Linked DNA regions of Homo sapiens: region 2 is linked to region 1. The links come from fine-mapping of genetic effects on gene expression. Tissue or cell type: whole blood. Region 1 holds a variant in brackets; the other region holds the start of a gene. All regions are shown on one strand. Distances are between the middles of the regions.

Region 1 (8,104 bases):
TCACGTCTGTAATCCCAGCACTTTGGGAGGCTGAGGCGGGTGGATCAGGAGGTCAGCAGATAGAGACCATCCTGGCTAATAAAGTGAAACCCCGTCTCCACTAAAAATAAAAAAATTAGCCATGCATGGTGGCACACGCCTGTAGTCCCAGCTACTCGGGAGGCTGAGGCAGGAGAATCGCTTGAACCTGGGAGGTGGAGGTTGCAGCGAGCCAAGGTTGCGCCACTGCACTCCAGCCTGGGCGACAGAATGAGACTCCGTCTCAAAGAAAAAAAAAAAAGGATATTTTTTCCTACACGCTTACGGTTAAGAGTTTGCTTGGTGCCTGTAATCCTGGCACTCTGAGAGGCCAAGACAGGAGAATTGCTTGGGCTGAGGAGCTTAAGACCAGCCAGGGCAACATAGTGAGACCCTGTCTCTACACAAAATTTAAAAATTAGCTGGGTGTGGTAGTGCACTGATAGTCCCGAATACTAGGGATGCTGGGGCAGGAGGGTGGCTTGAATCCAGGAGCTCAAGCCTGCCCTGAACCATGATTGTGCCACTGTACTCCAGTCTGGGTAACAGAGTGAGACCCTGTCTCCAAAAAAAAAAGTTTGCTTGGCATTATAAAGGAAATAAAAGGAGTGCACACAGAAAGTTTGCTTGGCACACCTGTCACGACACCTGTAAGTGGTGCTGGTCTCATGAGTAGAACAGATCTGTGAATGACAATTCTAATTTGTTGGGTCAGAATTTTCTCATTCATGTCTCCTCTTTCTCTATAGCCAATGTCAGCTGATGACCAGTTTAAGAAATAACATTGGCCGGGCGCGGTGGCTCATGCCTGTAATCCCAGCACTTTGGGAGGCCGAGGCGGGCAGATCCTGAGGTCAGGAGATCGAAAGCATCCTGGCTAACACGGTGAAACCCCGTCTCTACTAAAAATACAAAAAAAATTAGCCGGGCGTGGTTCGGGCACCTATAATCCCAGCTACTAGGGAGGCTGAGGCAGGAGAATGGCGGGAACCCGGGAGGCAGAGCTTGCAGTGAGCCGAGATTGGAGATCGCACCACTGCACCCCAGCCTGGATGACAGAGCGAGACTCTGTCTCGAAAAAAAAAAAAAAAAAAAAAGAAAAGAAAAGAAATAACATCAACTAGAATAGTGCAAACTGCCTGCAAATTCCTTCCACTGTGGCCAACTTCCCAAGTGTGAGGAGGTCTGTGAGGAGCACCAAGACCAGCCACTTTGGCCTCCATCATTCTCACAAATACCTTTCCAGTCAGTGGGGAGGAAATAATCCCATTGCCGATGTTCTTCTTGGAGTGATCTGGAATCACACTCGGGCGGCCGGGAAGGGAGGAGGAGCCTGTCCTGGAGATGAGGCCCTCGGGACTTTTCTTAGAGCCTGGAATTCTGTCAAAGGAAGAAAACAAGTAGGGAATTCTCTTACTAGGCATTACAGAAACGGAGAGAATTAGAATAAGTTAAGGCGGGGCAAAGGCAGAAACACGGCCTGGGGAAACCCTGCCAGTCCTAACCACTTCTCTGGAATCTCCCTTTGCCTTTCAACCACAGTGAGGCTGAGAGATCAGCCCCAAGTATCTGCTGAATATAAGCAGAGCAAGGGCAAATTAGAGTCAGAATTCCTCCAAGATCAGAGTTCAATGCACCAGAAAGCAAGAACCTCAAACACCTCAGCCACACTCTGCAGAGACGTACAAAGCAGCAAAAATGCCTCAGCTGCCACGGTCTCCAGCCTCCAGGTCAGTGACAGCCAGCTCCAGGAGAAGGCCCCTCCAGAGAAGCTCTGCAGCAGCACCCCCACAAACACGTCCTTCCCAGCATATCCCTACAGGGGCAGCTTCCCCACACGGGAAGGGGCATTGGCTGGCTACCATCCAGGGAGCAGTACCTCTAATTTGGGGCAATACTATAAATGGTGACTTTCCTGTTTACATTCAAAACAGCATCAATGTGAGGGCAGATGGGATCCTGTCCTGACCTTCCCAAGGCTCTGGCTTTACTAAAAAGTGTCCTTCCCTGTGGACGGTCTCTATGACACATGACAAATCCCTCCAGTGGAATTCCCAATTACCTTCAAACAAAAAAAGGTTAGGGAGGCCCACCGGTATAAGAAAAGAGCAGAGGGAGTGAGCTCATCTGGGGAGGGCGTGAGTTTATTACCGCAGATAGAACAGCACGTAGGCCTGCTGGTTCAGAACCACCTTGACGTTGCTGGAATGGACCAAGGAATCATTCATCTGGTACCACTGTCCATTGCTTGCCTGAAGCAGCCAAGGATGTTGCAGAAAACAAAACAATCAACAAGCATCCCATTATCCTCACTTTTTAAAAAGGGAATAAAAAATCTGTTAGTTGCTACATTTCCAAACACTATTAATAATCAACAGGTAACAACTTCTATTAAAACGTGTAATATTTTCATAACTCGGAATGTGACCCCAAAGTGTGCTCTGCGTCCCAGTTCCTTCCTAGTGCCCCAACAGATAGGAACTGTCCCTTCTAAAGGACATTCAGGCAGTGTCATCACCATGGCCGATTTTGCCAGGGTTCTAAGGATGGCACCAGAAGCGGCTGCCTCTTCCGTGTCTCCCTGCAAGTCTGAGAACACTAGATTCTGGTGCAACACTTCTGTAAAGGGCATCTTTTCACTCCACGCAGAGAGGCAACAACGAGGACTTGAATACAACCACAAAACATCACACTTTTCACAAAGTAAGTGCTCTACAGAGGCCGCATCTGGATGTGCATGGGTGCTGAAACCTGTCCCAGGAGGCAGCTGCACTGACACAAGCCTCTCACCTTCACGTAGCAGTAATAGTGCCCGGCATGGCAGCTGTAGCCCGAGTGCACCAGGACAGCATAGAGTCCATACATGACAGGATCACCATTATTCTGGGACATATACGGACGTATGTTGAGGAATTCCGGATAGCCTACATCCTGTTTGAAAAATCAAGGAAAAGACAAATAAAATTCACTTTGAGAGTAAAGATCAATTTGCCCTTTCCATCCACAACCACACAAAATGCCCAGCTTGTCTGGTCTTTAACAATTTGGGGGCCGGGCACAGTGGCTCACGCCTGTAATCCCAGCACTTTGGGAGGCTGAGGCAGGGGGATCACCTCGAGGAGTTCGAGATCAGCCTGACCAATATAGCGAAACCCCACTTCTAATAAAAATACAAAAAATTAGCTGGGCATGGTGGTGCACTGCCTGTAATCCCAGCTACTCAGGAGGCTGAGGAACAAGAATCACTTGAACCCGCGAGGCAGAGGTTGCAGTGAGCCGAGATCGAGCCACTGCACTCAGCCTGGGCGACAGAGCGAGACTGTCTCAAAACTGCCCCGCCACAAACAAGAAAAAGACAATTTGGGGCGAATGGGTGTGCAGCAACGCTGTGCAGGAGCTCCCCCAGGCAATGATTAAAAACCAAGATGCTGGCCAGGTGC[G/A]GTGGCTCACGCCTGTAATCCCAGCACTTTGGGAGGCCGAGGCGGGTAGATCACAAGGTCAAGAGATTGAGACCATCGTGGCCAAGATGGCGAAACCTTGTCTCTACTAAAAATACAAAAATTAGCCAGGCGTGGTGGCACGTGCCTGTAGTTCCAGCTACTCAGGAGGCTGAGGCAGGAGAATCGCTTGAAACCAGGAGGTGGAGGTTACAGTGAGCCGAGATCATACCACTGCACTCCAGCCTCGCAACAGAGCGAGACTCCATCTCAAAACAATCAAAACAAACAAACAAAGAAAAAACACCAAGATGCTGAGAAGTGAGTCTTCTCCAGCCAGCCTATGGGAAACTTTATTGTCCCATCAAGCAATGCAGGATCTGTTCTTGTCTTTGTCAAGCATCTCCATTAGTTCTCTCACCACCTGGTTCCTAACGATCAAATGAGAAGGGTCACTCATTTTCTTTCCCTCCACTTTACAGGAACATTGTTGGTGGGAGAAAAGGGAGAGAATGCTGGGTTTTAGATCTTCAGAAATAAAAGTGCTGAATTAATATAGCCAACTGCTACCGCAAGTAAGACTTTTAATCAACTGGATCAGAAGAAAGGTCATGCTAAAATGTCTTCCCAAAACTGACCAATTTTTCATAGAAAAAAATACACGCACACATATACATAACATGCATACATATATGCATACATGCACGCATAAAATACATGCACACATATATACATACATGCATACATACATCGTATACACACATGCACACATATATACATACACACACACATATGCATGCATACACATGTACGCATATACATACATGCACAACACATACATGCACGCACACATGCATACGCACACATACACACACATATACACACATGCATGCACACACATATACATACACACACATATAATACGTGCACACACATATATACATACATGCACACACATATATTCTTAGCAGTAATAGTGCCTGGCATGGCAGCTGTAGGCTGAGTGCACCAGGACAGCACAGAGCCCACATGACAGGATTGCCATTATTCTGGGTCATATACAGACGTGTGTTTAGGAACTCCGAAAAACATACGCATAATTTTTTTTTTTTTTTTTAAGAAACACAGTCTCGCTCTGTCACCCAGGCTAGAGTGCAGTGGTACATTCATAGCTCACTGTAACTTCAAACTCCTGGACTCAAGCAATCCTCCTATCTCTACCTCCCAAGTAGCTGGGACTATAGGCACGCGCCACCATGACTGGCCAATTAATAAAAATTTTTTAGGCCGGGCATGATGGCTCACACCTATAATCCCAACACTTTGGGAGGCCGAGGTGGGTGGATCACTTGAGGTCAGGAGTTCAAGACCAGCCTGGCCAACATGGTGGAACCCCGTCTCTACTAAAAATACAAAATTTAGCCAAGCATGGTGGCACACATTTGTGGTCCCAGCTACTTGGGAGGCTGAGGCAGGAGAATCGCTTGAACTTGGGAGGCAGATATTGCAGTGAGCTGAGATGGTGCCACTGCACTCTAGCCTGGGTGACAGAGTAAGACTCCGTCTCAAAAAAAAAAACAAAAAAACCAAAATTTTTTTGTAGAGACAGGGTCTCACTATGTTGCCCAAGCTGGTCTTAAACTCCCAGTCTCAAGCAATCCTCCCACCTCAGCCTCCCTAAGTGCTGACATTAGAGTTGTGAGCCATTGTGCCCAGCCTAAATCATTTTTTTAAACTGAGTTGTGGGATTTGTTGAAATGCATAGATCTTCAGTATATAGATCAAAGAGTTTTGACAAGTATATACTGATGGACATGCAGAACATCAACTAGAAAATTCCCACATCCCAGTCATTGCCCCCATCTCAAATATTCACTGTTCTGATTTCTGTCACCATTAATTTTGCCTGTTCTTAAACGTCACATACCATCAGTCATGTGCCACATAACATGTTTTGGTCAATGACAGACCACATATACAACAGCGATCCCATAAGATTATAATACTGCATTTTCACTGTACCTTCTCTATGTTTAGATACACAAATACTTCCCATTGTGTTGCAACTGCCTACAGTATTCAGGACAGGAACAGGCTGTGTAGGTTTGTGGCCTAGGAGCAATGGGCTATACCATACAGCTGGCTCCGTCATCTACGTCTGTGTAAATGCACTCTATGATGTTCACACAGTGACAGAATTGCCTGGTGACACATTTCTTAAAACATGCCCTTGTGGTTACACGACACCTGAGTCTACGACATTAAGAATCTGCAAACACATTTGAGAAATGCTGACCTAAGCAAGCCCCCACCACTACCAGTGAGGAAACGGAGGCTCAGCCAAGGGTGTCATTCCAAACCACATAACCAGGCTCTCAGAACAGAACTCTAGATTTTTATGAGATACAGACATCTACTGGGCACGGTGGCTCATGCCTGTTATCCCAGCACTTTAGGAGGCTGAGGCAGGCGGATCACCTGAGCTCAGGAGTTCGAGACCAGCCTGGCCACCATGGCAAAACCCCATCTCTACTAAAAATACAAAAATTAGCCAGGTGTGGTGGTGGGCGCCTTAATCCCAACTACTCTGGAGGCTGATGCAGGAGAATCACTTGAACCCAGAAGGTGGAGACAGCGCCACTGCAATCCAGCCTGGGCATCAGAGCAAGACTCTGTCTCAAAAAAAAAAAAAAGAGAAAAAAGAAAAAAGAAACACATCTTCTATGAAAATGCCACTATAGGCCAGGTATGGTGGCTCACACCTGTAATCCCAGCACTGTGAGAGGTCAAGGCATGCAGGTCACTTGAGCCCAGGAGTTTGAGACCACCCTGGGCAACACAGCAAGATGCTGTCTCTACAAAAAACTTTTTAAAAAATTAACCAGGCATGGTGGCATGTGCCCACAGTCCCAGCTACTCAGGAGGCTAAGGCAGGGGGATCGCTTGAGCTTGGGAGGTCAAGACTGTAGTGAGCGCTGATTATGCCACTGCACTCCAGCCCAGGTGACAGAGTGAGACCCTGTCTTAAAACAAAATGAAATTTAAACAATAAAATACCATCGTGTCAAAAGTAGTTTTTCTAAACTCCATATTTCATAAAAAGCCAGAGCATGCAACGGCACCTGTTCTAGACATCAAAAGGACATGGACAATGCAAGTCCCACCGCCCAGTGCTCATCACACTCATCTGGAGAACCCTGAAAGTCCCTGCCAGGACCAGCCCAAGCACAACCAGAAGCTGCGGTAAATCCATTAAGACAGTGGCCCTGGAACTTGACTGTGTATAACAAGCATTCAGGGATTTTGCAAAAATGCAGATTCCTGGGCCCTGTCCTCCAGAGATTCAAATTCACTGGCACTGGGATAAACCCAGAAACGTCTATTTTTAAAAGGCGTCCCAGGTTGCTTCCCCTCTCTGTGACTGTCTTCCCGTCCTGGACAAGGGCGAAACTACAGTCCCTACTTCACAATATGTGTAGAACCTTTAGAACAGGGACAGGTACTGTGTAAACAGCAGCTATCAAACTCGTGGCTATCACTTTCTTCGTGTTATTCTGATGCCGACTGTGGCCCACGGAGCTGCCTGGGATGGTGTCACGAGCGCTCACCTTGGTGATCTTCCCCCCGCTGAAGTTGGCAAAGCGCTTGAGGGAAAGGGTTAAGACGTTGGATGTTCTGTGGATGGTGAAGCGCTTGCTGGCTGGAACCTTCTTCTTGCATCTATGAAGAAGGTGATGAGAAAGATTAATGAATGATTGATTCGTGCTCTGAAAAATGTTGTCTTAACGCTAAGTTAATAACAGCAACAACTGCTCTGTAATAGTGGAATCTTCATCAATGAGATTTCGACCTTCTGCTCCTCTCAAAATCACATTAAGCATGCCTCAAGTAAAGGAAAGCTACCACAGGGAAATAAGACTACAGAAAGTGGGAAGATTCTAAAGCAAAAAAATAAAAGTACTGTACCCACCAGGAAACTAAATAAAATACAGGAAAAAGTTGCTTTGGGCCAACACAGGAAAGAGCAAATTAAAGCAGATGTGGCTGAGTGATAAAACGGGCAGGCAGGAAGTCAACGTAAGCAAAGCTAGAAGATGCGCAAACACAGGGAGAGAAAACAGAAGCAGAGGCGCGCAGCTTGGAGAGCTGCAGGAAACAGACCTAAAGAAGAGTAAAGCAGAATTAAGAATATATTCTTTAGTGCCTACAGCTTTACAAGGACCTAGATATAAAGATATTCAGCCGGCTGTAGTAGTGTGATCCCAGCACTTTGGGAGGCAAGGCAGGAAGATCACCTGAGTTCAGGAGTTCGAGACCAGCCTGGCCAACAAGGTGAAACCCTGTCACTACTAAAAATGCAACAAATGACAAAGTAAGAGTTCTATCTGCAGAAACGGAAAAATGTCCAAAACCAGTTAAGTAAAAAATGAAAGCCAAAGAAAACACTCCTTAAGAGGCAAGAGAGCAGCTGGTTGGGCACAGTCCCTGGGGCGGCCGCCCGGTGCCAGCCAGTGTGAACTGATGTGAGCTCGTGCTCTGCCACGTCCTCTTGGTGTGGCCCCATGGCTGGTCACTTCACTTCTCTGTGCCTCAGTTTCACCATCCCTAGCAATGGGAAACCACAGCCCCTACTGCACAATATATGCGGC
Region 2 (8,104 bases), 87 kb after region 1:
CGCCACCATGCCTGGCTAATTTTTGTATTTTTAGTAGAGATAGGGTTTCACCATGCCGGCCAGGCTGGTCTCAAACTCCTGACCTCAAGTGATCTGCCCGCCTTGGCCTCCCAAAGTGCTGGGATTCCAGGCATGAGCCCCCGCACCCGCCAGACTCTGCATCTCTAAAGTGCTGGGATTCCGGGTGTGAGCCCCCACGCCCGCCAGACTCTGCATCTCTAAAGCGCTCCCAGGGATGCTGATGCTGCCATCTGGGGGACCACGCTTGGAGTACTGCGGCCCTGGCAAACCATCTCTTCCAGGAAGCTGCATCTTGCTCTGCCTTCCTCCCCTGCCAGCAGCTCAGCCCTGATCATCTCTCACCTGAGGCCCTTAAAAGCCTCCCAATCAGCCTCTCTGCCCCCGACCCCCAGGCCTGCACCCCGTCCTCTCCCGCACTGCAGCCCAGCGCTGTCTAACTGAGAGACCTGGGTTACATTTCAGCATCCCCCATGTGATTCCCTGCTGTCCACACCAGCAAGTCTCTGAGTGCAACCCGCAGCCACGTGCATCATAATCAGCTGAGCTGCTGGTGAAGGGGTAGATTCCTGGGCCTCACCCCTGACAGATCCTATCCCAGCCCCTGCGGGAGGGGCCCAGGAATGCAGCCAGTTCACCAGCTGCCCTGCCAAAGCCTGGCAATCTCTGGGCCTAGAGGCTTGAGAACGGTCAAGCAGCTCGCCCTGGCTCCCCTGGGAGCCACCCTAGCCTGGAACGCTGCACACCAGACAGGGGTGGTAGAGCTCCTGGCCATTCCCAAATGCCCCACACCCAGCAGCGCCTGGAATGTGCTCATGCAGGTTCCTCGTGACATGGACACACCCCCTTCCCCATCCTACCCGCATGTCCCCAGCCCAGGCCTCGTTCCCACTCCCCCAGGATGCCCCAACCCTCCAAGGGAACAAAGAGAATGCTCTTCCCTTTCTCCAGAAGCCCAGCACCCGGGCCACATAGTCAAGCGCTTTGTCTTTGAAACATAAAAATAGCTATAGAAGGGCTCCGTTAGCTGGCATCGGCCAGAGAGAGAACATTTCCATATAATTAGAGCTTACCCTTTCATATGGAAAGTTAGACATTTCTCTGTCTAAGGCGCCTACGTAGAATATGTAATTTGACCTTCTTTGGGGGAAATTTTGGATTGTCTTTGGGATGATAATATAGGAAATCCCTCGAGGGCTTTTAAAATGTAAAGAACAGAGGTCCCATAAACTAAGTGACCCCAGAATGCAATTTGGGTTTTTTAAGTCGCCTTTTTAGAGCTTCCTGTGTCCTCCCTTCCCTGGTCATAACTGTCTGACAGCAGCCACACAAACAAGCTTATTAAAATTGTGGTTTTTTTGGCCGGGCGCGGTGGCTCACGCCTGTAATCCCAGCACTTTGGGAGGCTGAGGTGGCTGGATCACCTCACGACAGGAGTTCGAGACCAGCCTGACCAACGTGGTGAAACCTCGTCTCTACTAAATACAAAAAATTAGCCAGGTGTGGTGGTATATGCCTGTAATCCCAGCTACTCAGGAGGCTGAGGCAGGAGAATCACTTGAACCCAGGAGGCGGAGGTTGCAGTGAGCCAAGATCGCACCACTGTACTCTAGCCTAGGCAACAGAGCAAGACTCCATTTCAAAAAAAAAAAAAAATGTGTTTTTTAATAAAGTAAGTAGAGTCCGAGGTGGTGGTGGGCTCTTCCACAGGACCACTGCCTGAGCTTTCACACCTGACCTTATCAATTCAAAGCTGTGGGCATCCCCGGATACAGATAACCCTTGGGGGAGGTGGAAAATTGTTGCTAGACTCTAGCCTAGAGGTTTTTAACAGCTTGCACAACTGGCCAAATCTTACAAGATAAAAAAAGGTAATGGGAACACATCTAAAACTTATATGTGGGTCCCTAAATCCAACTATGCAAGTACAGAGGTGGGTGTGTGGAGCAGCACAGGGGACAAAAGACGCTGGGCCACCAGAAGGGCCAACGTGACTGTCCCCTGAGTGAACAGAAACGCCTCTAACATGCGAGCGAATGGTGCAGCCCAGCCAGCCCGACCTCACCTGGCCATGCTAGGAGGCAGTGGGCAAGCGGCAACGCTGTGGTGCCCAGGACGCCGGCAGGCACAGCGCCACGTCCACGGGCACCGCCCGTTCCCACCCTGCAGGACGCCACAGCATCAGACGAGACGGCCCGTGTGAAGCGCCGAGAACAGAGTCTGGCTTCCGGGAGGGCTCAGGAAATGCCGAGAGCTCGGCAGAGACACCCACGTGGTGCTGGATTCCACGCACGAGGAACCGACGGGCAGACGTGGAGCTAAATGATGGTCAACAGCTACGAAGTGCCTGTGCTCTAGAAATGGCCAATTTGATCATGTCACGGGATAAAGTTTCAAAATCAATAAAACCGTGATGAAATGATCAGGAATAAACCTGTCCAGAACTGTTCAAGACCTAAAGGAGATGCACGGGCTGAAGAACAAGGAGCAAATCTGAACGAGGGAGAGGTGTGTCTTCCTGGACAGTTCTCGGGAGAGGAGGAGGGCGGTAAGGACGGGGAGAAGAGGCCGCAGGCTTGGAGTCCAGGAGGAGAATGAACTCCTTTGGTCAGGAGGGGCCCACTGACCAAAGGTCCTAGGAAGAAAAGCCAAAGGAGGTGAGGTGGGGCAAGGGTGTTTGCAAAGGATAGAAAAGTCTAGAATGGCAGAGTATGGTGCTTAAGAGTACTATGTGACCTAGGCCAAGCGACTTCACTCTGGGTGCCTCAGTTTGCTCTTTAGGATGGGGATGATAACAACAGCAGCACCCATCTACAGAGATGCCAGTGCTTGTCACCACGAGAAGCACCTGAAATGCTTGGGGAAGAGGGGTGGTACTTACTGTGTGTGTCTCCAGATGACTGAGCTAGACCACCCAGAACACATTACAGGGAGGCAGAAGCTGACAGGAGGGCAGGAAGCACTGTCTCCAGGGCTGTCTTGAAATCACTGGGCTGACTTTGTAGGTAGTGAGACGCCCATCACTGGAGGCATCCGAACCAAGCCCAGATAAAACAAACATCAGAAACATTTTTAACTCCGTTTCTCTGAGTTCTAGCCTCTAAAAATACCCTCCATGACACGCTGTGTGCTGCCAGAGGCTTGGTTTTCGCCCTCTTCTCCCCAACTCTTAGCCACGTCCCAGTGGTGGCGGGGGGACGGGGGTCCCAAGCCACTGCACTGGGTTTTGGTTTCACTATGTTGCCCAGGCTGGAGTGCAGTGGTGCGATCTCAGCTTACTGCAACCTCCACCTTCCGGGTTCAAGCAATTCTCCTGTCTCAGCCTTCCCAAGTAGCTGGGACTACAGGCGCACGCCACCACACCCAGCTAATTTTTGTATTTTTAGTAGAGACGGGGATTCACCATATTGGTCAGACTGGTTACAAACTCCTGACCTCAGGTGATCCACTCGCCTCGGCCTCCCAAAGTGCTGGGATTCCAGGCATGAGCCACCATGCCCAGCCTGCACTGGGTTTTGGACTGGCTGTGTTAGCATCACCTGGGGCAGGGGTGGGTCACGTTAGAATGAGTCCTGGCTAGGCCCACAGCAGGCTTTTCCACCCGAATACTGGGGCCACAGCTCATGAATCTGTGTGTATCCATATCCTGGGCTGGGTCAGCTCTCCAGGGTGGAGATGGTTGGGCAGGCAGCCTCTGGGGGCAAGCTCGGGCTCAGGCCTCCCCTTGACCAGCTTCACAGAGACAGACACTGAGGCAGACTGACCTCCAAACTCCCAGCTGAGACGCCAGCTCCCCACGTGGGGGGCTTACAGCTGATGCAACCGGTGGCTCACTAAACATACCTCGACAGCGTCCATTACCGCTTCCCTGCAAACCTCAAGATCCTAAGCACCCAGCCTAGGTCAGGGGTCCCCAATCCCAGCAGGTGTTCCTGCTTCCTGAAGACCCCCCAGCCCAACTCCTCCAACAACCATATTCATCTCCAACCCAGTCCCACCAGCTTCCCTCACTCTCCTTCCCATCACACTGCCTGTGGGGAGCCCCGTGGTGCAGGGACTTTGCCGCTGGCCTTGCGAACCCACGGCTTGGAGCCCCTCCTTGGCCCACTCTCCGGGGCCCTCTTGGGAGCCTCGCTAAACAGCTGGGCATGGAAAGAACCCCACCCTCACCACAGATGGGAACAGACACAGAGAGCCTCAGCCCCGCAGTGGTCTCAGGGGCCCACTGACCAAAGGTGGCCGGAATCGCTTCCCCGCCTCCACCTGCAGCCCGGCCTCTGCCCTGGCTGGCTACTCATAGCAGGCTGTTGCCATGGGAACAGCAGAGCTGTTGAGCTGTGACATCATGGCAGGGGTGAGGTCAGGGACAGCTGTGAGCCAGCCAGGGGGCAAGCGTGTAGGTTAGGGGATCAATCATAAAGATTTGGCTCAAGCAGCCGGGAGCCATGGGGGCACCTGAAGGCACTGTTTAAGGAGGTGTGGGTGAACAAGGACAGTGCAATGTACAAATGCTCGTGGCCATACCAGGCAGAGGACATCTTTTTGTCCCCAGCTGGCTGCATGGAGACCTCCCAGGGTGTCATTCTCTCTGAGCTGTCAGGCCATTAAGGAGGTACACTTCAAGGTCAGGGTTCCTGACAACGCCTGCCATCCCTTCTCCTGTAGGGACAGCATCTGTTCACGCTTCTAAACAGCTCCAGAAAGCCATCGTTAAACTGAAACCCACTGGAGGCGGGGGAAGAAAGAATCCCGTCAACCACCTGCCCACACAGGAGGAGAAGCCACACGTACTTGGCCTCGTTTGAGGGCTAGTTCCCCACAGACAGTTTGATCAGAAGGATGGGCGAGGGAAGCTGGCAGGGCGAGGCTGGGGATGAACATGGGACACTGGGGGAGTCTGGCCGGTGCAGGGGGTTTCCAGGAAGCAGGAGTAGCTGCTGGAAATGGGGGCCCCTGACCTAGTCTGGGTGGTTGGCATCTTAAGGTCTGTGGTAAAGTGATGACTGGCATTGTCAAGATATGTTTTTTGTTTGTTTTTTAGACAGTCTTGCTCTGTTGCCCAGGCTGGAGTACGGTGGCGCAATCTCGGCTCACTGCAACCTCTGCCTCCCGGGTTCAGGGATTCTAGTGCCTCAGCTTTCTGAGTAGCTGGGACTACAGGTGCATGCCACCATGCCCAGCTAATTTATGTGTGTGTGTGTGTGTTTTAGCAGAGACGGGGTTTTACCATGTTGGCTAGGCGGGTCTTGAACTCCTGACCTCAAGCGATTCCCCTGCCTCGACCTCCCAAAGTGCTAGGATTATAGGCACGAGCCACCGCCCCCAGCCCAAGATATGTTTTAGTAAGCCGCCAGTTGGATCATCTGTAAGCAACTCACTAGAAGCTTCCAGCATCCTCCACAAATTTGACAACTGAGAAATGTGGCTGGGAAATCATGATTTGGGTCCGAAGAAGTGAAAGCAACAATCCTCAGGTTGTTGTTTCTTGAGAGAAGAAGGTAAACAGCAGGAATTCGGCTGAGGTGTCCAAATCTCGGGGAGGATGAATTCTCAGGAGAGCTGAACCTGAGACAAAGCCCTTTGTCCTGGGCTGGAAGGACCCTGGAAAGGTTATCTGGTCCCTGACTCAGGGAAGGGAGGCATTCTCCCTGCAGGAATGTTCTCGATCACAGTCCACCACCACCCCCCTACCCCCGCCCACTTTTGGAGTCCATCTTCGCAGCCCTTGATGATTCATTTTATGTCAGCTTGACGGGCTAAGGGATGCTCAGATAGCTGGGAAAACGTGATTTCTGGGTGGCTCTGGGAAGAGACTGGCATCTGAACCGGGGGACTGAGTAAGAAGATCCCTCCTCGCCAGGTGGGGCACCATCACTCAATCTGTTGAAAGCCCGGACAGAACAAAGAGACAGAGGCAGAGGCAGGCAAACCCTCCCTCTGCAAGAGCTGGGACATCCAGGCTGGGCGCGGTGGCTCACGCCTGTAATCCCAGCACTTTGGGAGGCCGAGGCAGGTGGATCACCTGAGCTCAAGAGTTTGAGACCAGGCCAACATGGTGAAACCCCATCTCTACTAAAAATACAAAAATGACCCGGGCGTGGTGGCGCACACCTACAGTCCCAGCTACTCAGGAGGCTAAGGCAGGAGAATCGCTTGAACCAGGGAAGTGAAGGTTGCAGTGAGCCGAAATCGCACCACTGAACTCCAACCTGAGCAACAAAGTGAGACTCCATCTCAAAAAAAAAAAGAGAGAGAGCTGGGACATCCACCTTCTTTCTGCCTTGGACCTCAGAGCTCCTGGGCCTCAGGCCTTTGGGCTCCAGGACTTACCCCAGTGGCCACCCCGCTTCTCAGGCTTTGAGACTCAGGCTGCATTACTGCACCAGTGACCCTGCTGCTCCAGCTCACAGACAGCAGATTCCAGGACCTCCCAGCCTTCATACTTGCATGAGTCAATTCCCACATAAATCCCATCTTACGCAGCTGGATGGAGCCTATTGGTTCTGTTTCTCTGGGAAACCCTAATACGGACCCATAGATACAAAATCTTCTATATGCTTCTTCCTCGGAGAAGATCCCTACATCTTTTATCCTCTCAGCGTGGCCTTGACGCCCATTCTAAAGCAAGGGGAGAGGTTCTAGTGAGGAGGAAATAGCATGGGGACCAACAGGATGGCACGCTAGGCCTTCGATGGCCCTTGCAGAATGTCCAGCACGACTGCCAAGTGCTCGTCAGGTCTTTTCTGGACTGAGGACATCTCTCTCAAGCCTGGGCTCTCCTGACGCTGCCTTGGCAAGCTCTAGAAGGCAGCCCCATCCTCTGGATTAATCCGCCCTGCTAAATGTTCTCTCTGGCATGGGATTCACTACTGGCCTAAGGCCAACTCAGCCTTGAGAGTCTGGGTCCATACTATTGTTGACTGCAATTAGAACCACATATTAGCAAATGCTAGCTTTTAAAAATTACAGGTACAGGCAGACCTCAGACATACTGCGGGTTGAGTTCCCACAGAATCATAATAAAGTGAATATTGAAATAAAGTGAGTCACATGACTCTTTTGGTTTCCCAAACCAATATATATTCCCAAATATAAATGTTATGTTTACATTGTACAGTAGCCCAGTAAGTGTGCAATAACATTATGTCTTATCAATGCACATACCTTAATTTACAAATACTTTATTGGCCGGGGCAGTGGCTCACGCCTGTCATCCCAGCACTTTAGGAAGCCAAGGCAGGTAGATGGCTTGACCCCAGGAGTTTCAGACCAGCCAGGCAACACAGTGAGATCCTACCTCTATAAAAAACTAAAAATAGCCAGGCATAGTGGTGCGTACCTGCAGTCCCAGCTACTCAGGAGGCTGAGGCAGGAGGATGGCTTAAGCCCAGAAGTTCGAGGCTGCAGTGAGCTAAGATCATGCCACTGCACTCCAGCCTGAGTGACAGAGCAAGGTCCTGCCTCAAAAAAAAGAAAAACCCAAAACTTGAAGAAATAAAAATAAAAATAAAAATATTTTATTGCTTGAAAATGCTAACAATCATCTCGACCTAGTGAGTCCAGTCTTTTTGCTGGTGGAGGGTCTTGCCTCCATGTTGATGGCTGCTGACTGATCAGGGTGGTGGTTGCTGAAGATTGGGGTTGGCTGTGGCAATTTCTTTTTTTTCCTTTTCTTTTTTATTTTTATTATTTTTTTTGAGACAGAGTCTCGCTCTGTTGCCCAGGCTGGAGTACAGTGGTGCGATCTCGGCTCACTGCAACCTCCATCTCCCGGGTTCACGCGATTCTTGTGCCTCAGCCTCCCGAGTAGCTGGGATTACAGGCCTGCGCCACCACACCTGGCTAATTTTTGTATTTTTGGTAGAGACGGGGTTTTACCATGTTGGCCAGGCTGGTCTTGAACTCCTGACCTCAGGTGATCCCCCCGCCTCAGCCTCCCAAAGTGCTGGGATTACAGGCGTGAGCCACCGTGTCTGGCCGGCAGGCCCACTTTCTTATTATTTGTGTGATCACCTGGAGTAGCATTTTTTAATTTCCTTCACATTCACAACTTGGCTGTTTGGCACAAAAGGCCTAGCTGTCAGCC

Evidence for each region. PIP is the estimated chance that this variant, and not a neighbour inherited with it, causes the effect.
Region 2: CEP295NL starts here. The variant in region 1 is fine-mapped to the expression of CEP295NL in whole blood (TOPMed, PIP above 0.99).

The regions. Positions count from the first base shown.
Region 1 is chr17:78,811,604-78,819,707 of GRCh38, forward strand. USP36 (ubiquitin specific peptidase 36) reads right to left here. Exons shown (of 21, transcript NM_001385174.1): 10 at 7,064-7,175; 11 at 2,809-2,949; 12 at 2,170-2,270; 13 at 1,257-1,398. Among named protein-coding and RNA genes, the nearest start is that of USP36, 25 kb to the right of the region's middle. The variant G/A (reference allele first, on the strand shown) is at 3,459.
Region 2 is chr17:78,898,886-78,906,989 of GRCh38, forward strand. CEP295NL (CEP295 N-terminal like) reads right to left here and starts at 4,316. Exons shown (of 3, transcript NM_001243540.2): 1 at 4,249-4,316; 2 at 2,900-3,041. The coding sequence starts at 2,943. The region is part of intron 1 of TIMP2 (TIMP metallopeptidase inhibitor 2); the gene reads right to left. RefSeq lists an enhancer at 3,495-4,095.